Linked DNA regions of Homo sapiens. The protein of the gene in region 2 purifies or fractionates together with the protein of the main gene of each other region. This does not show direct contact. Each region holds a gene or a part of one and is shown on either strand. Other genes may lie near its edges.

Region 1 (7,558 bases), on a different chromosome or scaffold from region 2:
GCACAGTTTTGGAGGATGTTTGAATCAAACCTGTCTTGAAATTTAATTTGGGAAGGCACCTTTTTAGAAAAAAGTTTGTCAAAAATTAGTGTAATTGGTTTCACTTGCAGTTTGTTAAGTTCAGAAAAAACGTTTAAAAATAAAATTTTGCAGCTAAAACAGTTGAGAAGCACTTGGTATTCCAAGTGATACATTGGAATAAGTAGAGAGTCACCTTCTTCATATTCCCAGTCAGCATCTTTACTACCATTTTTGATGAGCACAGCATCTGCAGTCATTATCTTGATCCCATGCCTTGCCCCGTGTATCTCAATGAGTTTCAGCTATTATTGGATTCTTAATTCAAAACACATTTCATTCTTAATAGAAATTGAAATAATATGTCATTTTAATGTTCTGAAGGACAATCTTTCAAAGTATTAAAACAAATGAAAGAAGTAGGTGCTGTTAATGCATTTTATAAATTCCCTGCAAAATGTGGCAAACTTCTGCCAGGAAACCTTTGTAATTTTGAGATATCCAAGGCAAGGAACTTAAAGTAGAGGAAGCTTTCTTCTTTGAGTCAATCCTAAATACCACTGTTAAAAATGTAATGAGACCATTCTTTATTTTTATATCCAATTATCAGTATTTTCTATTCCAACCTGCTCTAGAGTGACTTCCCTCCTTCCAATCCAAAGCCAAGAAATCTCTAGTTATTATGATTACACTAATTCCTTGTGCCAAAATGCAACAGTTTGGGTTTATTGTTTGGCTTTTTGTTCGTTTTTCTTGCATTATGTGAAAAGTACTATCCGAATCAGGAGGAAGCAATGAGGCTACGAGTAGAAAGGCATAAAATAAGGAAGGGCTGCCCCCCTTTGACCGGGAAGCAAGGAAATGTGGAAAACACAGAGAAACCTCATTCGGTACAACCCTGCTGCTTCCCTTGCGTTGCTCCCCATCTCAGCAACTGGCTGGACTGGAAAGATTCACTTCTCTGACCTAAAGAACTTTGATCCGCTGAGTTTAGAAATTCTCTGTCCAGAGCCGCCCACATTCCGGGAAAAAGACCGCGCCTCTTTTAAACTGACAAAAAAAGTTTTTTCTTGCTGTGGCTGCCTGTGGTTCTGGGAAGGACTTCCAGCCTCTGCTTATCACCGCGGCCAACAAAATGCACTGGAAAGGAACCAATACTAGTGTGTGCTAGTACAGTCTGCTGTTCCCAGGGGTCTGGCTTATTAGCGGGTGCTTTCCTCTTTTCCCCCACCACCAATTCCTTACAACATGCCCATCCTCTCAGGGTTTTATTGAGGTGTGGCGGGGGGATGGGGGACGGCTTGGTGCTGAACTGTAGCGGCTGGAAGGAGCAGCGCGCTGGCACGGTGGGGATGGCCAAGGACTCCCAGTATGTGGAGAGTTGAGCCAAAGGGAAGGGAACACATAGGAAAGGGTCCGGGACAGCGAAGACGATTCCTCAATCTGAGCAGTTCCAAAAGTGCGCTAGATCCAGTTTAAACAAAAGAGCAAGATCCAAAGCCAGAACACTGGATCTCCAGACTAGTTGTAGCTAGCATCCTCCGTCTTCCCTTCCTGAAGACCACGCCCCTCTGGACCGATTGGGGAAACTACCATCAGCAGGGGCTTTCAGAGGAGGGCAGAGTGGGAATGGCCTTTGGTTTAGCTCTAAGGTTCCTTTTCTAACCTCTCCGACGAGGTAAAGACTAAGGGACAAGCGCGAGGCGGCACCGAAAACAGCAAGTGAGGAAGGCGAATAAAGCCAGGCAGGTGTGAGGAGGGTCCAGATTGCAGAAGACGAGGAACGGGCTACGAATTGTGGGCGGATGCAAGGGGTGGGGAGGGCGGGCCAGGGCCTGTGGGAGCCCGAAGCACGTGCTGGCAGAGAAGCAGCGGAGGGGCTGGGCAGGGGCTAGGACCGGTTACAGAGAAAGGAGTCGGGGAGACTGGCAGGCTGGAAAGCCGGCGCAGGGAGGTCACCTTTGATGTAGACATCGTCGTCGGCGCGCATGAACCACTCATACTTGTCCAGGTAGTGGTCGTGCATGTACTTGATCATCATGAAGGACTTTTTCTGGGGAGGATAGGAGTCGTCCACACCCGGTAGCGCGATGACAGGCAGGGGTGGCGGGGGCTGGCCGGCGTTGGGGGGCTGCTGGCTGGAAAAGAACTCCACGCGGCCCGGGATGAAACGCGCCCAGGTCCGCTGCGCGGCCAGCGCGCGGCTGCCCAGGTACTTCTGCGCGGTCATCACCCCCACGTACAGGAAGTCCCGGGGTCGGGCGCTCGGGGCGGCAGCGCCCCCGTCCCCGCTGCCGTTGTGGCTACTCCCCGGCCGGCCGTCTCTCCGCTGCCCAGCCGCGCCCCCGTCCTCCTCCTCGGGCTCCCCCTCGGCCGCTGGAGCACCGGGAAGCCCCGTCGCGCCCTCAGGCTCGCGTCCTCGCCGCCGCTGCTGCAGCGGAGGTGGCTGCTGCCAGGGGCTGCTTCGAAAACTGGTGATCCCGGGTGCTGCCTCGGGCAGCGGTGGCCCCTGGAGATCCTGGCGCGCGGGGGGCGGCGACTGCTCCTGCCGTGGTCGGGACTGGGGCTGGGGGAGCGGCTGCTGAGCGCCGGCGCGGGGGCCAGCAGCAGAGCGACCGTAGTAGGAGCAGAGGCTGGAGCCACGTCTCTTCCTCTCGCTCAGCTCCGCCACCCTGGGGGCGATGAGCCAGGACGCGGCGGTGAAGCCCAGCACCAGCCCTAATGCCACGCTCATCCACGGGCGGCGAGAGCGCACAGCCATCGCGGCTGTCCCGGGCGCGGACGCTCGCTGGGCTGTCGCGGCGCGGCACGCGGTTTCCCCGGCTCACACCCGCCCCTCCTCCGCCTTTGCGCCCCCAGCCGCGGCCGCAGCCGGCCGCCTAGGCGCCGACACCGGCTGGAGGTCGAAGCGCCGCGGACGCCTCGACTGCCGCGGGCTGCAGCTGCCTGCCGGGCTCCCGCTCAGCTCTGGGCCGGGGCTCCGAGCAAGGGTCGGGAGTGAAACTTCTCCCGGCGGCGGCGGTGGCGGCAGCGGCGGCAGCAGCGGCAGCTGGAGGAGCTGCAGGAGGAGGAGGAGGAGCAGCGGCGGCGGCAACGCGTCCGCTCCTAGGCTGCCACCCTGTCAGTGGCGCGCCTGGGCCCTCCCTCCTCCCTCCTTCCCGAGCCCCCGCCCTCACTCCCGCCTCCCGCTCCCCCCGCCGCCGGGCTCCGAGCTGGCCCGGAGGAGGAGCCGCAGGCGGCACCGCTGCCAGCCGGAGAGAAGCGCGGGCCGCGGTATTTCCCCGTCACCCGCCCTTGGACGCCCCCCGTCCGCGCCTCAGTCCAGAGCCGGCCTCCTCTCCGGAAGGAAACGATCCCTGTCGGGCCGCCTCCGGCTTGCAGCGCCGACGCCCCCTCTTCCCTCCTCCCCCAGCTCTTGCTCTTCGTCCCATTTCCCGTCCCGTCCCGCCCCTCCGCTGGCCTCCCGACACTCGTGTCTGGGGGCTCTACTGGCCTCCTCCCGGCGCCTAGGCTCCGCTGACCTCATCGGCGGAGCTCGGGTCCGGGAGCCCCCAGCAAGTTCGTTGCTGTCCCACCGTGCTCTCCTCCCCCGGCCCACAGCCGGGTACGTCCTGGCGTGACCCTTACCACTCTGCCCCGCCCCAGGTCCGCCAGGGCGCCACTCTTCGCGTTTTCCGTCCTTTCCACGTTGTTCTTACCGCTGCCACTCCGCGCCTTCTCTCTCTAGTCGGTCACTTGTCAGGAAACCAAACGTCCCATCCCAGCACCTCTCCTCCCAGCCTAACTTCCCTCCTACCTGCATCGTCCACCAGCTCTCCTCAGTCCTTCACAGAAGCACCATTGTCGTTAGGGTCTCTCCTAAGAAAATCTCTGAGGGATTGGAAATACTTATCCTGAAAGGCTAAGGGAGTTGGTGGTGTGTGGGGGTTCAATCCCCAAAGAACGTAAAAATCCCATGTCCTCCACCTGTTGAGTTGGAAAATGTGGGGCTGCCTAATGGTCTCCCCCTCGGCTCTCCTGATGATATCTGTTCAAGAAATGAGAACTATGGTCTATTTTCAGTCTTGGTAGAAGATTGGCTCAGTGGGACTGGCAAATAGTGGAGAAATGGGCACACATTCACAGGGCCAATACCCTGAAGATCCAAACGAAAGAAATTCTTACCCCCACAAAATAAGTGAACTTAATCAAAAAATAAAATGGAGGATATGATTTTTATTCTTGCCTATGAACCGTTTTATTTTCTAAGGCAAAGACAGGAAAATTTTACCTCTCCAATGAGGGAGGAAAATTGTCCAGCAACAGAATCTCAAAAAAAGTTAAGCTGTATTGGCCAAAATCATTGTGCCTTAGTTACGTTAGGAAGAAATTACCTGAAGGTATATGATTTTTGAAGAAGGGAGCATTAACAAATTTCTCTCTAAAGGTTGTGCATAAAGCTATAGTCTGGGGTGCATTTGGCATCCCAAGTACTTCCTTCTCTTCAAATTTCAGTCTTCTGTTTTAGACATCAAACGCAAAGGGATGGTATTGAATGGCATTAGACATAATGGCTCGATCCAGCGAGGTGCTGGCAGCGTCCCTGGAACACTAGGCCTGCCTGGAGCCTTTGGAGGAATGGTTCTTTCCACACCGGTCCCTGGCTGTGCATGAGCACGTCTGACTAAATGTTTCATCTGCTGGACAATGAAGCTCCTTTTCCATGTCTAGGTTTTTCCCAGAGACACTTGGGAATACAGATTACTGGGCTCTCTCAAAGTTAAATTTTAGTTAGAATACAAAGCTAGTCAAACAGGCCCCTTCTGATTTTTAAATCGTCAAAGGCATTTTAAAATTTCTAGAATAGTACTATTCAATAGAACTTTCGCTATAATGGAAATTTTTTTTTATTTGTGCTGATAAGACAGTAGCCACATAAAATTATGGAGCATTGAAAGGTGACTAGTGTGATTGAAGAAATGAATTTTCATTTTATTTAATTTTAATTACTTTTTATTTAAATAGCCCCATGTGGCTAGGGGTTACCATGTAGGACAGCACATTTACAGAGGATTTCCTATTGCATATGGTCAACAGTAAAGGACAAATAAGTCCACCTACACACCAGTACCCTCTCCCCTGCAGTATTCAACTGGGCTTTATGGTAATGGATGCCATTCATATTGTTGATCTACAAAATCATTAATTCTCATTGGGCATAAATAACCCAATTCATCAACTGTTTGGAATATTTGGAGAGGAAGTTAATTTCATTCACTTATTCAACAAGTGTATATTAGAGATTAAACATTAGACAAGGTGGAAGGCTCTGGACATGGAGATGTCAACAAACTATTCAGTGCTTCCCATCATGAAGCTTATAGTGCATTGAAGAAGACACATTAAACATCACACTAGGAAATGAATTACAATGGTGATAAATGATATGAATAGAAATACAGAGTACTCTGAGAATATTTATAAGAGCATCTAATTTAGTATGGGAGTCAGGGAAGGCACTAGAAAAGATTCAGATAAAATGAAATCATTGAAGTGATATTACATATGAGACAAGTGACCTTGGGCAAGTTGTGAAAATTCTAAGTTTTTGATTTCTCATCTGTAAATTCATTTCTGTGAGGCTTTATTAATATACTATATGAAGTGCTTAACATAATGTTTAGTTCATTGTAAACACTTGGGAAATGTTCTCATTTTCTAATCCCTTCCCTTATGCTAAAACGTCTCTCTCATGGTATCTATCATCTTATTTTTATTACATTTCATCTTTTCATTTATTTAACAGATACTTATTTAGTATGTACTGTGAGGCAGACACTATCACTGAGAAAAAAAACGTAGACAAAACAAAGTCCTGACTTCATGGGACTTGTATTCTAAGAGGAGATTACACACACACACACACACACACACACACACACACACGCATGCATGTGTGTATATGAAGTATTTTTACATATAAAGAAATATCTGTAATATGTCGGTGTAAGTGTTTATTTAAAAAAAAGAGAAGGATAGTGAGTGTATTATGTGTTGGGTGAGGCCACTTAAAACTGATACGTCAGGAAAGTTCTTTCTGATACTTTTAGCAGAAAACAGAAAAAAGTGAGGAAACTAATCCTGAAGATATCTGAAATAATACTTTTCAAGGAGAAGGAGTAGCTAACACAAGTCTTTGACACAGACATGGCATATTGAGACGCAGCAGAGGCCAAAGTAGATTGGAAAAAGGAGGAAGCGGATGACTTGTTGATAATTTAGGTCAGTGCTGAATAGAATTATAATGTGAGCCACAACTGCAAGATATATAATTTAATTTTTTTCTAGAAGCCTCATTTAAAAACAGGTGAAATTGATTTTCATACTTTTTATTCAACTTAATATACCCAAAATATCGGGAGATATTTTACATCCTTTTTATTAGTACTAATTTTTCAAAACCATTGTGTGCTCATCACTTACAGCACACCTGAATTCAAACTAGCCACATTTCCAATGTTCAATAGACACAAGTGGCTAGGGACTACCATATTGGACAGTGCATATATAGATCCTTGCAGACATTCATAAAGACTTTGGCTTTTATTCCGAGTGACAATGAAGCTGTTGTGTAGAGTAGTGATCTGGTTTTTATTTATTGTTTACAAAGATCATTCTAGCTCCTATGGGGAGAAAATAAACTGCAGTGGGACAAGGGTAGAATTAGAGAAAACATTTAAATCTTTATTGAAGTGACCTCATCACTTGAGAATAGAAGGGAAAAAACAAGCCTCTTTTTTTTTTCTTCCTGCACAGTGTCTGCCCCTTTCCTTATTTGTAATAAGTAGAAGCTTTGGGAAAAGATTTTTATGTAAATTTAATTTTATATGTATTCAGATTCCTGTTATTTGTGGGTGTTATTTGTGGGCGTTTCCCAAAGTCAGTGAAGTAATTTTCTCATCTCACTTTAGTTCTGAAGATACATGACTTTTAGAGGAGGTAATTTTCTGGGAAATCTCTATCAAGAACTCACTTTTTTATTTTCAAAACATTAAGTAATAAGTTATAGGAATAATTTTTAAAAATGTCAATTGGATGTAAGGGTTGTTGAGGAGGAAATTTTCATGGAACTAACATTGAAGAAAAATAAACATAATTGCATACCAAAATATAATAAAAATCTATATACTGTGTTAGAGGAAAGAATACACAAATATAGGTAATTCTATAATAATAACTCTGGAAAAAATGTCTCATATAGTTGCTGTTCTTATCTAAGCAAGAATGTGCCAATAAGTATACTTGTGAACCATCTCATAAAATCTCTGTGAAGCACCTCTATAGTGGATTTTGAGAAAAAAGCAATAATAAAATCCTTCTAAAATTATAATAGTTTACAAAGAAAATTACAAAACTGATTTTCTGTCTTTCCTAAACCCTTTAACTATTTCAAATATGTCCATATTAGACTACAGTAACATATGAATTATTTGCCACCTTCTCTGAGCTGTAGCTACTGGAACATAAGGTATCATCTGGATTCACAGTGAAGACAGATTTC
Region 2 (7,163 bases):
GAAGCGATGCTGTCATCTGAGCTTGTGCTTTACACACACTGGGCTTTTTTTTTTTTTTTTTTTTTTGAGACAGAGTCTTGCTCTGTCACCCTAGGCTGAAGTGCAGTGGCGCAATCACAGCTCACTGCAGCCTCGACCTCCCAGGCTCAAGCAATGCATCCACCTCACTCTCTTGAGTAGCTAGGACCACAAGGGCATGGCACCACATCTGGCTAATTTTTAGAAATTTTTTTGTAGAGACGGGGTCTCACTATGTTGCCCGGGCTGGTCTCAAACTCCTGGGCTCAAGTGATCCTCCTGCCTCAGCCTCCCGAAGTGTTGGGATTATAGGCACAAGCCATCATGCCCAGCCCCCTCCAGGCCTTTGTACCTTCTGTGTCCTCACCTGGAGTACCTGCCCCCTGAACTACCCATTGAACTCTTTATTTAGTGGCCCACCTCCTCTAAGAAGTGCTACCTCCTCTAAGAAGGCCCCCCTCATATCCAGTCTGTGGTTCCTAAATTGCAGCTAATGACTACCCCATGAGCTCACACATTAGAGTTGGAAATCTACTTTCAAATGACCCCACTTTGTGTCTAAAGCACTCTGACCTTCTTCTACCCCCACCCCAGTCGCACATCAGTGAGCTTCAGGGAATCTCTGGAATTGAATACAAAGTCATGTGCAAAATCAGATGTGCAAATGTATGGATAAACAAAATACAGTATACCCATAAACGAAATATTATTCAGCCACGAAAAGGAATGGAGTCACTGATACGTGTTAAGTGAAAAAAAAAAAAACAGACAGAAAAGGCCAAATATTGTATGATTCCATTGATATGAAGTATCAAGAATAGGCAAATCAGTAAAGACAGAAAGGAGCTTAGCGATTGTTAGGGGATGGGGGTCGGGGCTGGGGAATGACTGGTAGAGGGTTTCCTTTGGGGATGATGAAAACATTCTGGATGTAGGTAGTGTAGGTAGTGGTGATGGTGGCACTACATTGTGTGTGTACTAAATGTCACTCAGTTGAATATATTAAAATGGTGACTTTTATGTTATGTGTATTTTACAACAGTTTTAAAAAAAGTCAAATGCACGTTTCTCAGGAGAAGATTCCTAGGTTTGATTGGCTTCTCAAAAGGTGAAGCAGCTCTGATCTGGTCTGGACCCCTTCATGTCATGATGCAGATGGTGATACTGGGACACAGACAGGGGGTGAGACCTGTCCAAGGTCACTCAGGGGCTGGTGGCAGAGCCCAGCCAGGTTGCATGCCTGCCTGACCACATACTCCCCTACCTGCTTCTTCCCTTGTCCTTTGGTCACCAAACCCTCCCGTCACAATCCCCAAGCCTCTGTCCTGCTCCCAAACATGCCACCCACAAGCTGTGTAACTTCCCAAAGTTAAAAGGCCTTCTTCCTGAAACTGGGTGCACGGATTAGAGTTTCATGAGCGTTTGTCTTTTGCTCTAGAGTGGACTCTGAGCTCCTAGAGGGCAAGAGGAAATGTTTCTTATTTTCCTCCATATCTTACAGAGCTTCTGGGACAGCCACGGAGGTGAGCCATTCCTGTCTCCCTTCAAGAAAGAACTTGCCATTCACCCTCAAGGAGGGCAGTTAGCTGACAACTTCTAACAAACATTCTTTGCCCAGAGGACATGCTGGGTTGGCCAAGACTTTGTTAGATCTGCAGCACAGTCTGAGGCTCTCCCAGCCCTTTCCTGCTTCCTCTCCCTCACCGGCCTTGCCACTACCCCCTCTCTCCGCAATAAACCTCTTGCGGTCCTATGTTCATCTCAGTGCTTGCTTCCTGGAGGACCCACATGGCACAGCACCTAGCCTGCTGGATCATAAGTGCTCAGTCGCGAAGTAAACGGAACTGGGGATTCTCTAGAGGGTAGAGGGAAGCCAGAGCCTGGGCCTCGGAGAGCAGGAGAGGGGCTGTCCGTGGAGGATGCCTCAGTCATAAGGAGAGCAAGGTCTAGAGCAGTGTGAAGAAGGGGCCATGGCCCTGGAGCAGGACCCAGCAACGGGCAACACACAGGGAACTCAGGGATTCACCAGCACTGCTGGCATCGTCTCTAGCTCCTCCGCTGTCTGGGGCAGCTCTTGCAAACTCAGAAATGTCCCAGGAGACAGGGTTCAAAGAGCCCTGGCCTTGGACTTTAGAAAACCAGGTTCAATTTGTGCTTCCCGCTAGTCAGGTGACATTACACCCTTCTCTCTGGAGCTCAGTTTCTCCGTTTGTAAAATGGGCTTATAATGTGTCCCCTCCCTTCAACCCCAGCATGATTTTGAGAATTGACTGAGAAGATACTACAGTTTATGGAGGGCACCCTGTTTCGTAGTTTAAATGCACACTCAGGCCAGGTGAGGTGGCTCATGCTTGTAATCCCAACACTTTGAGAGGCCAAGGCGGGAGGATCGCTTAAGCCCACGAGTTCAAGACCAGCCTGAACAACATAGCAAGACCCTGTCTCTACAAAAAATTTAATAATTAGCTGGGTGCAGTGGCACATGCCTGTAGTCCCAGCTACTCGGAAGGCTAAGGCAGCAGGATCATTTAAGCTCAGGAGTTTGAAGCTGCAGTGAGCTATGATTGTGCCACTGCACTCCAACCTGGGCAACAGAGTGAGATACTCGCTAAGAAAAAGAAATACATACATATTCATTTAACCCTGGCAGTGGCCTTGTGAGAGCAGCATTATGACCTCCATTTTATGTATGTATATATGTATGTATGGATGTATGAGATGGGGATCTCACTTTGTTGCCCAGGCTGGAGTACAGTGGTGCAATCAGAGCTCACTGCAGCCTGGACCTCCTGGGCTCAAGCAATCTTCCTGCCTTAGCCTCCAGAGTAGCTAAGACTACAGGTGTGGGCCACCAAAGCCAGCTAATTAAAAAAAAATTTTTTTAGGCTAGGCACGGTGGCTCACGCCTGTAATCCTAGCACTTTGGGAGGCCGAGGCGGGCAGATCACGAGGTCAGGAGTTCGAGACCAGCCTGACCAACTGGTGAAACCCCATCTCTACTAAAAATACAAAACTTAGCCAGGCATGGTGGCACTCGTCTGTAATCCCAGCTACTCAGGAGGCTGAGGCAGGAGAATCGCTTGAACCTGGGAGGCAGAGGTTGCAGTGAGCCGAGATGGCACCACTACACTCCAGCTTGGGCACAGAGCAAGACTCCGTCTCAAAAAAAAAAAAAAAAAAATTTTTTTTTTTTTTTAGAATGGAGTCTCCCTACGTTGCTCAGGTCAATTTTGAACTCCTGGCCTCAACCAATCCTCCTGCCTCAGCCTTCTAAAGCACTAGGATTGTAGGCCTGAACCACTGTGCCCAGCAGAGAAAACCGGCTCTCTAGGTCAAGGCATTGGCTCAAGAACACACAGCTAACAAGCCGACATAGCTGGGATTAGAACCCAATTGTCTGGCTCTAGAACCCCTTCACTATTTGAGGTACAATTTACTGCCTGACTACTAGTGCTAAACTTTGGGTTGGGGGCAGGGCCTGAGGCAGCTCCTGCTCTCATACATTCTGAGAGCCAGTTTGACAATAGGCAACTACACAAAAAACCGAAATAATCCCAGAATGCCTCAGGGCTCCAGGGGAAGGCGAAAAAAGCGGGTGCGTTTATAAACTTAAAATAATCAGAGGCAGCATCTCCAAGGACTGTGAGAATGCCCCAAGTCAGGGCAAAAGTTTTGGCTGGTTTGGGAAGTGATGAAAGGCCAAAGTGGCTGCAGCGAGCGTGGACCCGGGAGGTCTCCAGGCGCGTTGGTGCGAGTTGGGGACGGCAGGCAGGGACACCTAAAACCTACGGTACGCCACGAAGGGGTTTCAGCACGTCCTGAAAGGCCCGATCCCCCCCCAGAACCGCTGTGAGGGGGGCAGAGGGAGGTCCCTCGACAGGATGTGGCCTTAGTCGAGGAAGGCGGGAAGCAGGGGCTGGCACCCCCGACGCCCCACCCGCCCCCCGTGGCCTAGCAGCAGGGCGGGGCGAGGCGGGTCATGCACCCCTACCAGCCAGCCACTCCCACCCAGCCCTCGGCTCCCGCAACTCGCGGGGGTCCTCGCCCGGGTCCCCCGCCCCGCCCCGCCCGGCTGGTGACGTCACGGCGCTCGTCGGCGCCGCCTGTGGCGTCACAGGCCGGGCCCGCAGGGCTTTCTAGGGGTCCGTCGCTCTTGAAGCCGCCGGCGGCGGGCGCGTGCGCGGCCCGATGAAGAAGGAGGTTTCCAAGCCGTCTCCGCCCAAGTTGATCGGTGGATGCGCGCCCCCGCGCGGGGCACCGGTTGCTGTGGACGCAGTGGCGGCCGTTGGCTGGCGGGTGCGGCGCAGCCTCGGTGTCTCTGGGCCGGCGGTGCAGGGCAACGTTTCATGGTGCCGGGCGGCACCATGAAGTCTCTAAAGAAGGATTCCCGCCTCAGAATAACTCCGACCAGATTATTAGAGGCCTCAGAGAATGTCAAAGGTTGGCGCTGGCTGCCTTGGGCGCTCGGGAGAACCCGAGAGGGGAAGCGGTCCCCGGAAAGAGTTCAGGACACGGGGCCTGGAGGATGGGGATGGCACCAGGGATGGAGGAAAGATCACGGGGAAGTGGGGTACTGGGCATAGGACCCTTAGGGATGGGGGGCAAGGCAGGAAGAGCCTACAGCGCACTGGGCCTTGGGGATGGGGACATAGGAAGTGGGAGACTGACAGAGGGGCCTCAGGGACCACTGGCTGGGGAGATGGCCTTGCGCTACCTCTAACCACATCTTAGGGTGGCATGCAGGAGGCAGGATCCCCGGACTGGATGAAGTGCAGAAGAGCCAGGAAAGAGTTTAAGGGTAGAAGGGCCAGGAATTGGGGTCCTTGGGAAGAGGAAAGAATGAAGTGTTGAAACCAGCCACCTTGATGGGATTATTTGGTAGAGGAGGGTCGGGGAGCGGGGCAGGCGTCACTTAGGATTCCTGCTGGAAAAACCCAGAAGAAAGGCCTTGCTTGGCTAGTTCTCTTTTTGACTGCCTTTTCCTACCACGTGCACTTTCCAGCTGGATGACACTTATCCAGCTCCTTTAGCCTGGAAAGAATCGCTAGATATGACTGCTTCCTACCCTCTACAGCTTTCTTCTGGTTGCACCTGGGAGAGCCACAGGGCGTCTGATAGCGGACTGACTTCCATGGACATGTTCTCACTTGCAACCCACCCCCTTTTGATCTTTTTTGGCTGTTTCCATTTATTTATTTTTAAATTTAATTTTTAGCTTTTTTTTTCTGTGTGTGTGTGTGTGTGTGTGTGTGTGTGTGTGTGTGTTTGTAAACAGGGCTCTCGCTGTGTTGCCCCAGCTAGTGTCAAATTCTTGGCCTCAAGCGATCCTCCTGCCTCGGCCTCACAGACTGCTAGGATTCCAGGCATGGACCACTGCGCCCAGCCTATTTTTGTTTACTGAGAGCTGATTTTGTGTGGTACTGTGGCTCACCAGAAGGGTATCGGTATTAACTGTGTGACCCTGGTCCTCAAGAAACTCAGTCTAATGAACACCTGGAGGAGTAACCTGACAAAGGTAGAAATACAAATGCTGTGATGTAGGTGCCCATCGGGCTTAAGGGGGCTCAGAGCACCTGAGCCAGACCAGGGATGGTTGTAGGGGTACGTCTTCTGAAGAAGGTGACATCTATGGCAGACAAGAAAAAAAAGGAGAGGTTTGCTTCTCTAGGTCTAGGAAGCAGCATGAGTTTATGGAACTGTAAATGTGGGAACCAGAAGAGGCTGCACAGGTGGGTAGGTCAGGGGCCAGACCATGAAAGGGCTTTATGTACTAGGTCAGAAAGCCTGGATGTGCTCTTGCAGGCCCTGGGGAGACCCAGCCTCAGAGTTGTGAAAGCTCATTGTGAGGAGAGGGGACCCTCAGAAAACTAACAGGAGCTTAGTCGCTTTTCAGTATGGCTTTATGTTTCTTCACGTATAAAAGTCCAACGTTGAGCCGGGCATGGTGGTGCACATCTGCAGTCTCAGCTGCTCAGGAGGCTGTGGCAGGAGGATTGTTCCAGGCCAGGAGTTTATGATCACACCTGTGAATAGCCACTGCATTCCAGACTGGGCAACACAGTGAGACCCCCATTATTAAAAAAATAAAAGTCCAATGCTGTTTTATGACATACTATATATATATATGTATGTATTTTATATATATTATGTATATGTGTATATATGTGTGTGTGTGTGTGTGTGTGTGTGTATATATATATATATATATATATATATATATATATATGTATTTTGAGACAGGGCCTCGCTCTGTCACCCGGGATGGAGTGCCGTGGTACAGTCATAGGTCACTATAGTCTTGAACTTCTGGGCTCAAGTGAACCTCCTGCCTCAGCCTCCCAAGTTGCTAGTATTACAGGTGCACACCACCATGCCTGGCAAATTTTTTTTTTTTTTTTTTTTGTAGAGACAAGTTGCCCAGGCTGGTCTTAAACTCCTGGGCTCAAGCGATCCTCCCACCTTGGCCTCCCAAAGTGCTGGGATTACAGGCATGAGCCACCGTGCCTGGCCCGTGACATACTTTTTAATAGTTGAGAGAGAGGGAATATCTGGTCTCCTTTCACAAGGGCAGTCAAGGGCTTTCCTAGCCACTGCCTCCTGCTCACATAGTTTCTGGGAGATCGTATCAGATTTGAACTGCTGTAAACAAATCAAGGAAAGATTTTTCACTGCATATTTATTTTTAATAAGCAGAAAATTTAGTTTGTTAATTAACCCTTGAGTTAAGAACATGCACCAGAGTGAGGAGGGAAAAAAAATGAAGTGTTTAGCATGCAAGATATCTTTTTAAAAATATCTCAGGGGAGCCTCTAATGTTGTAGAGCAGTACTCTCCCCCAGCCCCCATACAAGGCAGCTAATGACCCAGTGTCATTTTGTAACCTTGTGCGATGTTTCTCCAAAGTCTCTGACTCATAAGCAAAAAGGAAAGCAAAAATAGTGACTTAAACCTGTTTCTCGGGACCTGAGAGCCCTTTTGAGTCCTAGTACCCTCCCTTCCTGCTATGCACCACCTCCCCACCGCTGTCTTGTTGCTAAGAAACCAAGAACCCTCCTAGCAATATTAGATTCCCCTCCCCAACCAATTAAAGCTCTGCCCTAGTAGGGACAGCCCCTCCATGGTTCCCCCAGCCCAACCCTAAGGTC
Region 3 (8,116 bases), on a different chromosome or scaffold from region 2:
GCCTCCCGAGTAGCTGGGACTACAGGCACCTGCCACCAAGCCTGGCTAATTTTTTTTTTTTTTTTTTTTTTTGCATTTTCAGTAGAGATGGGGTTTCACCGTGTTAGCCAGGATGGTCTTGATCTCCTGACCTCATGATCCGCCCGCCTCGGCCTCCCAAAGTGCTGGGATGACAGGCGTGAGCCACCGCGCCCGGCCTGCATTACATTTTCTGAGTATTGCTGGTGCATTAGGCCCCCCACTGATTTGAATATATTGATACCGTAACCATGAAAATGTATTTGGTTCAGGGGGCATGGGGGAGATAAGGGAGTTACCTAATTTACTGTTTGTACTAACTGGTTTGTTAACTGTCCCCAAAACTGTGATTTCACATGGTCTATCACCACACTAGAGTCATGCGGATTTACTTTCAAAACCATGCTGTAAATAATCTATATGGCTCATCCTCGATTTCCGATACGGCTGTTTCTCTGGTCAAAAAAAAAAAAAAAATCCCATAAAACCTCAGGTAATGCAAGGTAGATCTGGGAGAGATCCTGATAGGCTGGTTCCCAAATCACTGCACTAGTCTATGTATCTCTATCTATCGATCGATAGATAGAATTTTTTTTTTTTTTTTTTTTTGAGATGGAGTCTCACTCTGTAGCCCAGGCTGGAGTGCAGTGGCATGATCTTGGCTCATTGCAACCTCCGCCTCCTGGGTTCAAGCGATTCTCCTGCCTCAGCCTCCTGAGTGGCTGGGACTACAGGTGCACGCCACCACACCCGGCTAATTTTTGTACTCTTGAGTAGAGACGGGGTTTCACCATATTGGTCAGGCTGGTGTCGAACTCCTGACCTCAGGCGATCCGCCCGCCTCGGCCTCCCAAAGTGCTAGAATTACAGGCGTGAGCCACGGCGCCCCGCCTGCATTAGTCTGTATTTACAATACCTGCATTCTAAGCTTTTCAAGCCACTCAGGACCCTTCCTGGCGGAATGTGGGTTCTGGACTTAAGCAGGACCCTAATGGAAATGTGCAGGAATGGGGATCAAGCCATTCAAGGGGCAGTCACTGAAGACCACTTTCACCTTCTTTCTCAGTCCTTTACTTTCTCCCTTAAAGGCAAGGGAGACCATATATGCTTTTCCCCTCACAACATCTAGTGCCTGAAAAATCTGACCAAGACTGCATTTAAAAACTGAAGTGTAAAGGTATTGGTTATAAGAACAAACAGCAACCAGCTTAGCCTGGCTCAGCACTGGCTGCTCTGAAATTTCATTACCAGACAACTGATGCTCTAAAACCATTCCCCACATTGGTTTGCTCTGTGGCTGGATAAGACCCAAACTTTATCCATACAGTAAGTGTCTCTATACTTCACACATATAGGGTTTCCATCAAATCCCTTTATCGAGTCTACAACCCTCTCCAACTTCAAATTCACTCCAATACAAATCTGATTCTAACCATGCCAGCCATTCCAAAATCATCTCCCTTCTAGAGACTACATTGGCTAATCCCTTTGTTAAACCTGAACACAATTCCAGCTGCTTTTATGACTCATTTGGCCAACTAGAGCCCAGTTACTGGATAACATGCATACACCACCAAGCTGAACTAATTAACACCAGAATGCAGTTTTCCACTGAATCTACCAAGGGCCAAGAACTGCTTTTCCCCAAGGTTCTCTCTCTCTGTACTCAACAGACTGGTGTGGTCCAATATGCTGCGGGCATTCTCTTTCATTTATAGGAGTGCCTCCAACTGCGAAATGTGAGAGTATGATGTGGAAAGGTTCTAGAACTAGATTAACGTACACGGGCTCCAGCTTTGCAAGGACAAAGGTGCACATTTTAGGGAATCCAGTATCAGCCCCAACTGCCTCCACTATCAGGTACTGTGCTATGAGTTTTCCAACATTATGAGGGAGACCCGATCTGTCGGGCCCTTCTAACGAGAAGCTTCGATTTGCAAAGGCTAAAGTGCCTTCATCAGGGTGAGAGGTACACCCAGCGAGGCCACACTAGTCCATCTGACCCCAAAGGCCATGTTCCTGAGCGCCGCGCTCACCATCCCGCCTCTGATCTTTTCTCCCTCGGCCCGGCGTCTCCCGAGAGGCAACCCGATCCCGCCGGAAGCCCAAGAAGGGCCTAGGAAGCGGGCGGAGGCGAGAGCCAGGAGAGCACCCGGGATGCCGGCCGCCGGGATGCCGGACGCAGGAGGCGGTGCCCGGGGAGCAGGGGCTCACCTGTAGGCGGCCACGGCCCGAGTCTGCAGGTATTTCTGGGCGGTCATGACTCCCACGAAGAGAAAGTTCCTGTCGCGCGGGCCGCCATCTGGGTCCGAGCCGGGCGGCCAGAGCTGCGCCCCGCGCGCATCGCCGCGCGCCCCGCCGGCCTGGGAAGCCGCCGCCTGCCCGGACCGGCAGCCCTCGGGGCTGGCGCGGCGCCGTGGGCCCGCTCGCTTCAGCTCGGAAGCCCGGGGCAGGACGAGCCGCGAGGCCAGCACGAAGCCCAGGACGAGCCCGAGCAGCACGCTGAGCCAGGCGCGCCGGCCGCGCGCGGCCATGCCCGCGCCGCTCCGCCCGCCGGGCCGCCGCCGCAGGCTCCGCGCGCCCTCAGCCCGCTGCCCCCGCCCGCGGAGGCCAGCCCGCCCTAGCGCCGCGAGGCCCGGCCCGGGCAGCGCCGCCGCCGCCGCGGGCCCGCCGCGCCCATCGCGGCCCCCGAGCCGCCCGCAGGCCCCGCGCCGGCGCTTTGTTCCGCACGCCCGCCCCCGCCGCCGCGGCCTGCGCCTTTAAGAGGGGACCATGCCCGGCGCGCGCTAGCGGCGGCTCGGGCGCGAGGTGGCGGCGGCTCCTCCCGCTCGCGCGCGGGGACGCGGGGCCGGCACGACGGCGACGACGGCGGCGGCAGACGAGTCCGGGCTCCCGTCCCGCCCTGCCCGCGTCCTCCGGCTGGCTGGGCTCGGTTCGCACGGCGCCTGTCCCCGTCCTCTTCGTAGCCGGCGCCGCCGCCGCAGCTGCACATCCTCCGGCTTAGCTCGCCATTGCAACAGGAGCCCCTCACGTCACGCACGGCGCGTTATGAAGTGGCCCCGCCGGCGGCGAGCCGTGGCCCCTCTCGGGATCCGTCCGCGCCGCGCGATTGGCGCAAAAGTGAATGAGGGGCGGTTCACGTGGCCGAAGTTTGACCAAAAAAAAAAAAAGCCCTCTCGGGCGCCCCGCCCGCGCGGTCTGCGACTGGAGCTGGCGGGCGGAGGGGGCGTGGGCCCCCGCCCGGCGCCCGCGGGGCCGGAGCTGCCCGTGATCCGCACCTAGCACCCGGCGCAAGGGCGTCCCCGCGAGGACGGCCGCTTCCCGCACCGCGGCGCCCGGGCGCGAATCTCGGGAGCCAGCCTTGCAGTGGGGGCTTCTCGGCCCCCAGACTCCACGCTGCGCACGTTCCTCCCGCACGGGCCGTCCTCGCTGCACCCCACGGCCACGCCCTTCCTGCCGCCGGGCCGGCCCCGCGCTCCCGGCCCCGCGCTCCCGACCACACTGCAGCTTTGTCCGCAGTCCCGCGGCCGCACGCAGGGAACAGCCGTCCCGGAGCCCTGGGGACGTGCGCGCCTGCGAGTGGACCGTGAATTCAGTTACCTTGTTCCCTGTTGCTAGTTTCTACGCTAAATAAGAAGAAGAAGAAGAAAAAGCCATCTTTAATACTTAAGGTCCACGCTTCTCATACAGTACTAGCATTTAATGGATCTCGAAGACAAGGAAAATGAAGTTAATGCCCTGGATGGTAAACCCTACTTTCATTTACATACTGTGTGGGCAGATAGCCGGCTAGTACCCCCAGCCTGGGACTTTGTCCCTACTTTAATATAGTCCGTCTGTAAAAGTGCCGTGGATTTCTAAAGACGGATTTTGGGTCCCAGATCCTCTACTCTGGATTTTAAGTTTTATACATTTCCTCTGCAATACTTCAGCTAAGGCAGCAAAAGCGGAGGTCTCCATACAACGAAAGTTTGTGTAGAGTTTCAGTCTTGTTACTTAGTCACCAGTATATTGGGGTTTTCTAATGAAACTTTTGAAGGGCAAAGTGTTTCCCTGGGCCTGAGAAGTTACCTGCATTGAATCAAATAAACACATGCCTGGGGCAATCCTTGGATCTTTCTTCATTGTTGACCAAATGGTTGAAATACTATCACACAGTTTAAAATGCCTGTGGGAGCTTCAGATACCTTCTCGGCACCTGAATGGTGGTCACTCTTGTTTATTCTTTGGATATTACCACTTTCTTTGACACTTGTGATTTATATTAAAAATAGTTCATTACCTACCTTCCCACAGAGCCCCTCCCTAAGGGGTGATCCACATCTAAAAATAAAATACTCATTATGCAGTGAATACAGGATTCCAGCAGTGGTCTTGGGAAAAATACAGAACATACAACCATGAATTACAGGCTCGAAAACCATCGAAAAAGGTTTCCACTAAGACCATAAACCACAAATGCCGAGGAGTCACCAGATCCCCCAAATTCAGCAGCCCCATCATTCACAGTGATTTACATGAAGTACGAATCTGGCCAGATTCAGATGTTCAATTTTGTAGCATATTCAACGATTTCAGTATTTTCTAACCTGCTTTAGACTTACCTAGTTTTCTTCGAAACTAGTGTCCAGTGAAAAGCTGGCCGGGCGCGGTGGCTCACGCCTGTAAACCCAGCACTCTGGGAGGCTGAGGCGGGCGGATCGCCTGAGGTCAGGAGTTCGAGACCAACCTGACCAACATGGAGAAACCCCGACTCTACTAAAAATACAAAATTAGCCGGGGGTGGTGGTGCATGCCTGTAATCCCAGCTACTCGGGAGGCTGAGGCAGGAGAATCGCTTGAACCCGGGAGGTGGAGGTTGCTGTGAGCCGAGATCGTGCCATTGCATTGCACTGCAGCCTGGGCGACAACAGCGAAACTCCGTCTCAAGGAAAAAAAAAAAAAAAGTATATAAATATCTGATGGGAATAATATTCTGAGGATGCCAAATATTTTGTCCTCCTCAATATCCTGGTTCCTAGTTGTCCCTCAGTTCCTAGGTTAACAGTCTCACCTGTCTCACCTGCAGGCTTAATGGGGGTCTTTCGTAATGTAGAAAGGATACCCTTTTCTTTGTAAAGGCTGAGCCTGAGGGCTTACAATTCCCTGGAGAAGGAGAGTAAGACATACGGGAACTCCCTCTGGGAGAAGAGGGATATGCCAGGCCAAGAGAGGGTTGGAAGGAGAAGAGAGAAACTGAGGTCCTGTAGAAGTCTGCCAGGGGCAGGGACCAATTCCGGCATGCAGCCTAGGAGCAGGAGGGCAAGCTCTAGCACATCTGGAAGGAGCAGCTGGATTGTTGAGCTGAGGCAGTTCTCCTGGGGAAGAATCCAAAAGTGTCCCAGTAAGGGGCCTGGCTCAGGAGACAAGGCTATCCTAAGTGGGGATTTCACAGCCAGTAGCAAATACCTGGAATCAAGAACTTCAGTGACAGCCAGAGACCCAAACAGCTGGACAGGACTGGTACCCCCAGTATGAAGGCCTGTCCCATGCCCAGCCCCACTAGTCAATACCAGCAAGGAGCCAGGGAGGACAACGAGGGTCTGGAACATCTGCCCCCAATGCACACACATGCGTCCTTCCCCACAGCCCCCTGGAGGCCAAGGCTGTCCTCATCCTAAAGCCCCCTCACCCTAAGTAATTTTTAAAGGTAAGGAGTAGGCAGGGTGATTCGCATTTATAGGGATTTCACTGCAGGGAGCTGAGGAAAGACTTTTCATGTTCCGGGCTTCTTGATTTCACTGTGCTACTGGCCTTCTCTGTTGAGGGAATCATTGACCATTTTTCTCATCATAAAAGAAGGGGAGGTATTAACTGTTACCAGGAACACTTGTAAGGAAGCCCTTAACTGTAGTTATTCCATGAAAGTCCCAATGGCACAGGAGTGGCCCAAGAGGTGGGCTGTGATGGATCAGGGATCAGGAGTGTGGGACCGAGTCTGAGCTCTGCGTGGAGTGAGTTCCACCTGGAGGGGCTCCGGGAGTCCGGCTCTGTCTCCAAATGAGTCTTTCTGCTGGATCACGTTAAACGGTCCTCCATAGTGATTCCAGACCAGTATTCAGAAATGTGTTCAAAAATCCCAGATCACTTAACTTCCCTTCTGTGTTCATGAGTGTGACTCTTTATGACACATTATTAAAGTTCATCGCCACCTACCTTACTGAGCATTTTCTCACAGATGGCAACTTTGTTCCCACACACTTCACATTTCTTTTCTGTTGCTAATACATTGAACGTCTGTTACCAGTATAACATTTCATATAATTTGCAGCAATTTCTTGGAAACCCTTGGTAAATACCTCAATTGTTTGTTGGCAGCAAGCCTCAAACGACCGACAGAGTTCCCTGTTAGAGCTTCTTTAAAGATGAAGCCTCTCCACTCACGCCTCAAACAGGGGTCCTTGGAAAAAGTGGTAATTTTTATTAAAGAAAAAAAACTTTCAGAAAGGCCTGTTTTAAGAAACAGTGAATGCTGAGGAGTTATAATCATCCATCCTTTCAGAAGGTTCTGTTCACTGCCTGCAAAGAAGAAAATCTATAATGACCACTTTACTAATATTGCCACTTAACCTCTGTTAACCCAATAAAACACTGCTTCATTATGAATGCTGCTATTAAACTTACAAGCAAGATCCTCATGAGGTTGTTAATTTCGCTCACTATTTCCTTCTGTTTGTAGCATTTCCAGTCAGATGCAGGAAAGGGCAAGTGAGCAGGGCTCACGTTCTGGTTTCACACACTGGCCTATTCCAGCCCTGGGTGTTCTGCAAAGTCCTTCAGTGCTTATCAGCTGTGTACACCGTTTCCATCAGACGCTGAGTCAGTGTGAGTGCTTCTCACACTGTGTGTGTGTGTGTGTGTGTGTGTGTGTGTGTGAGCTTTCATGTGTACGATAGAGACACAAAAGAGATTTAAGTTCAGTATAACCATGTGGACCAGCCAGATGGGATGTGATCTTCCTAACTAGAAAACGCTGGGTGCCGCCAGCACAGGCACTACTGGGAACCAGCCTGAATGTTCTTTAGGAGACAACCTCACTGCAGAGGCTGAGGACAGTTGGCTTCTGGTGTTAAGACTTAATCCTTGTGGAGAGGAGTTTGCCTTTCCCATCCCTTGCCAAGAAATGCATTGATCTTTAAAGCGGTGCCAGAGTTTCCACAGCTGGGAAGTTTGCACAAAGACAAAGCTCCTATCCACAGGAGGGAACTCCCTGTAGGAACCCAGGCACTGGACAGCTGGGCAGCAGCATGGCCACCTGAGGGCTCAGTGCAGCTGGGGCCAGATGTGCAGCTCAGATTCGATTCCCACTGGAGGCCTAATGAAACGTAAAACTGGGAAAAACATTCACGCTGCAGAAGACGGTTTAAGCTACAAATTGAGGCAGCAGAAATAGGGATCTACAAACACCTGAAAGTACAATGCAAGAGAAAACACTGTCACCATAATACTCATGGCTAAATGGCCCCAGGTCATTGATCCTTCTCACACCCAGTTATGCTATCAAGCCCATGCTAGGGTCATAAACACTCTTAATGCACACCTCATGGGTGATAAATGTTGTTATCCAAAGTTGGCAATTAAGGCCTCTCTAGGAACTCAAAATAATCACCGTATGTATATTCACTCGGAGGAGTCTGTGGAAATAGAGGCTTTCCCAACATGCTTGCGGGAGAGCAAAGTCATACAAACCCACTGGGAGGGCGGTTTTGTTTGAATATAAGTGTGAATTTTTATTTCCATTTTTTTAAAGACAGGGTCTCACTTTGTCACCCAGGCTGGAGTGCGGTGGAGTGATCGTGGCTCACTGTCAACATTACACATTACAAGTGCATTTGCTTTCGACCCCACAGTCCTGCTTCTGAGATTTGTCCTCCAGCCATACCAGTACAAAATGACACTTGAACGAGGTTATTCTCTGCGACACTGTTTGTGATAGTAAAAGATCAGACCCCAGTGTTCATGTATAGGGGAATGGATAAATACACAAAGGCGCACCCATCAGAGAATGAACTATTGTGCAGCTGTAAACCACAGCAAGGAGGCGCTCTCTCTACTGAAA

What was found. The genes of interacting proteins can lie anywhere in the genome.
Region 1: the proteins of MYCBPAP (region 2) and CHSY3 purify together in Homo sapiens (co-immunoprecipitation; 2 studies listed by BioGRID and IntAct, with this or other methods). This does not show direct contact.
Region 3: the proteins of MYCBPAP (region 2) and CHSY1 purify together in Homo sapiens (co-immunoprecipitation; 2 studies listed by BioGRID and IntAct, with this or other methods). This does not show direct contact.

What each region holds. Positions count from the first base shown.
Region 1 is NC_000005.10:129,900,051-129,907,608, reverse strand, and holds the start of CHSY3 (chondroitin sulfate synthase 3), read right to left. Parts: upstream 3,145-7,558; 5' UTR 2,780-3,144; coding exon 1,978-2,779; intron 1,768-1,977; exon of another isoform or gene 1,682-1,767; intron 1-1,681. UniProt on the Homo sapiens protein: Has both beta-1,3-glucuronic acid and beta-1,4-N-acetylgalactosamine transferase activity. Transfers glucuronic acid (GlcUA) from UDP-GlcUA and N-acetylgalactosamine (GalNAc) from UDP-GalNAc to the non-reducing end of the elongating chondroitin polymer.
Region 2 is NC_000017.11:50,504,293-50,511,455, forward strand, and holds the start of MYCBPAP (MYCBP-associated protein), read left to right. Parts: upstream 1-4,146; 5' UTR 4,147-4,253; coding exon of another isoform or gene 4,254-4,382; coding exon 4,383-4,458; intron 4,459-7,163. UniProt on the Homo sapiens protein: May play a role in spermatogenesis. May be involved in synaptic processes.
Region 3 is NC_000015.10:101,248,905-101,257,020, forward strand, and holds the start of CHSY1 (chondroitin sulfate synthase 1), read right to left. Parts: upstream 3,145-8,116; 5' UTR 2,553-3,144; coding exon 2,233-2,552; intron 1-2,232. UniProt on the Homo sapiens protein: Has both beta-1,3-glucuronic acid and beta-1,4-N-acetylgalactosamine transferase activity. Transfers glucuronic acid (GlcUA) from UDP-GlcUA and N-acetylgalactosamine (GalNAc) from UDP-GalNAc to the non-reducing end of the elongating chondroitin polymer.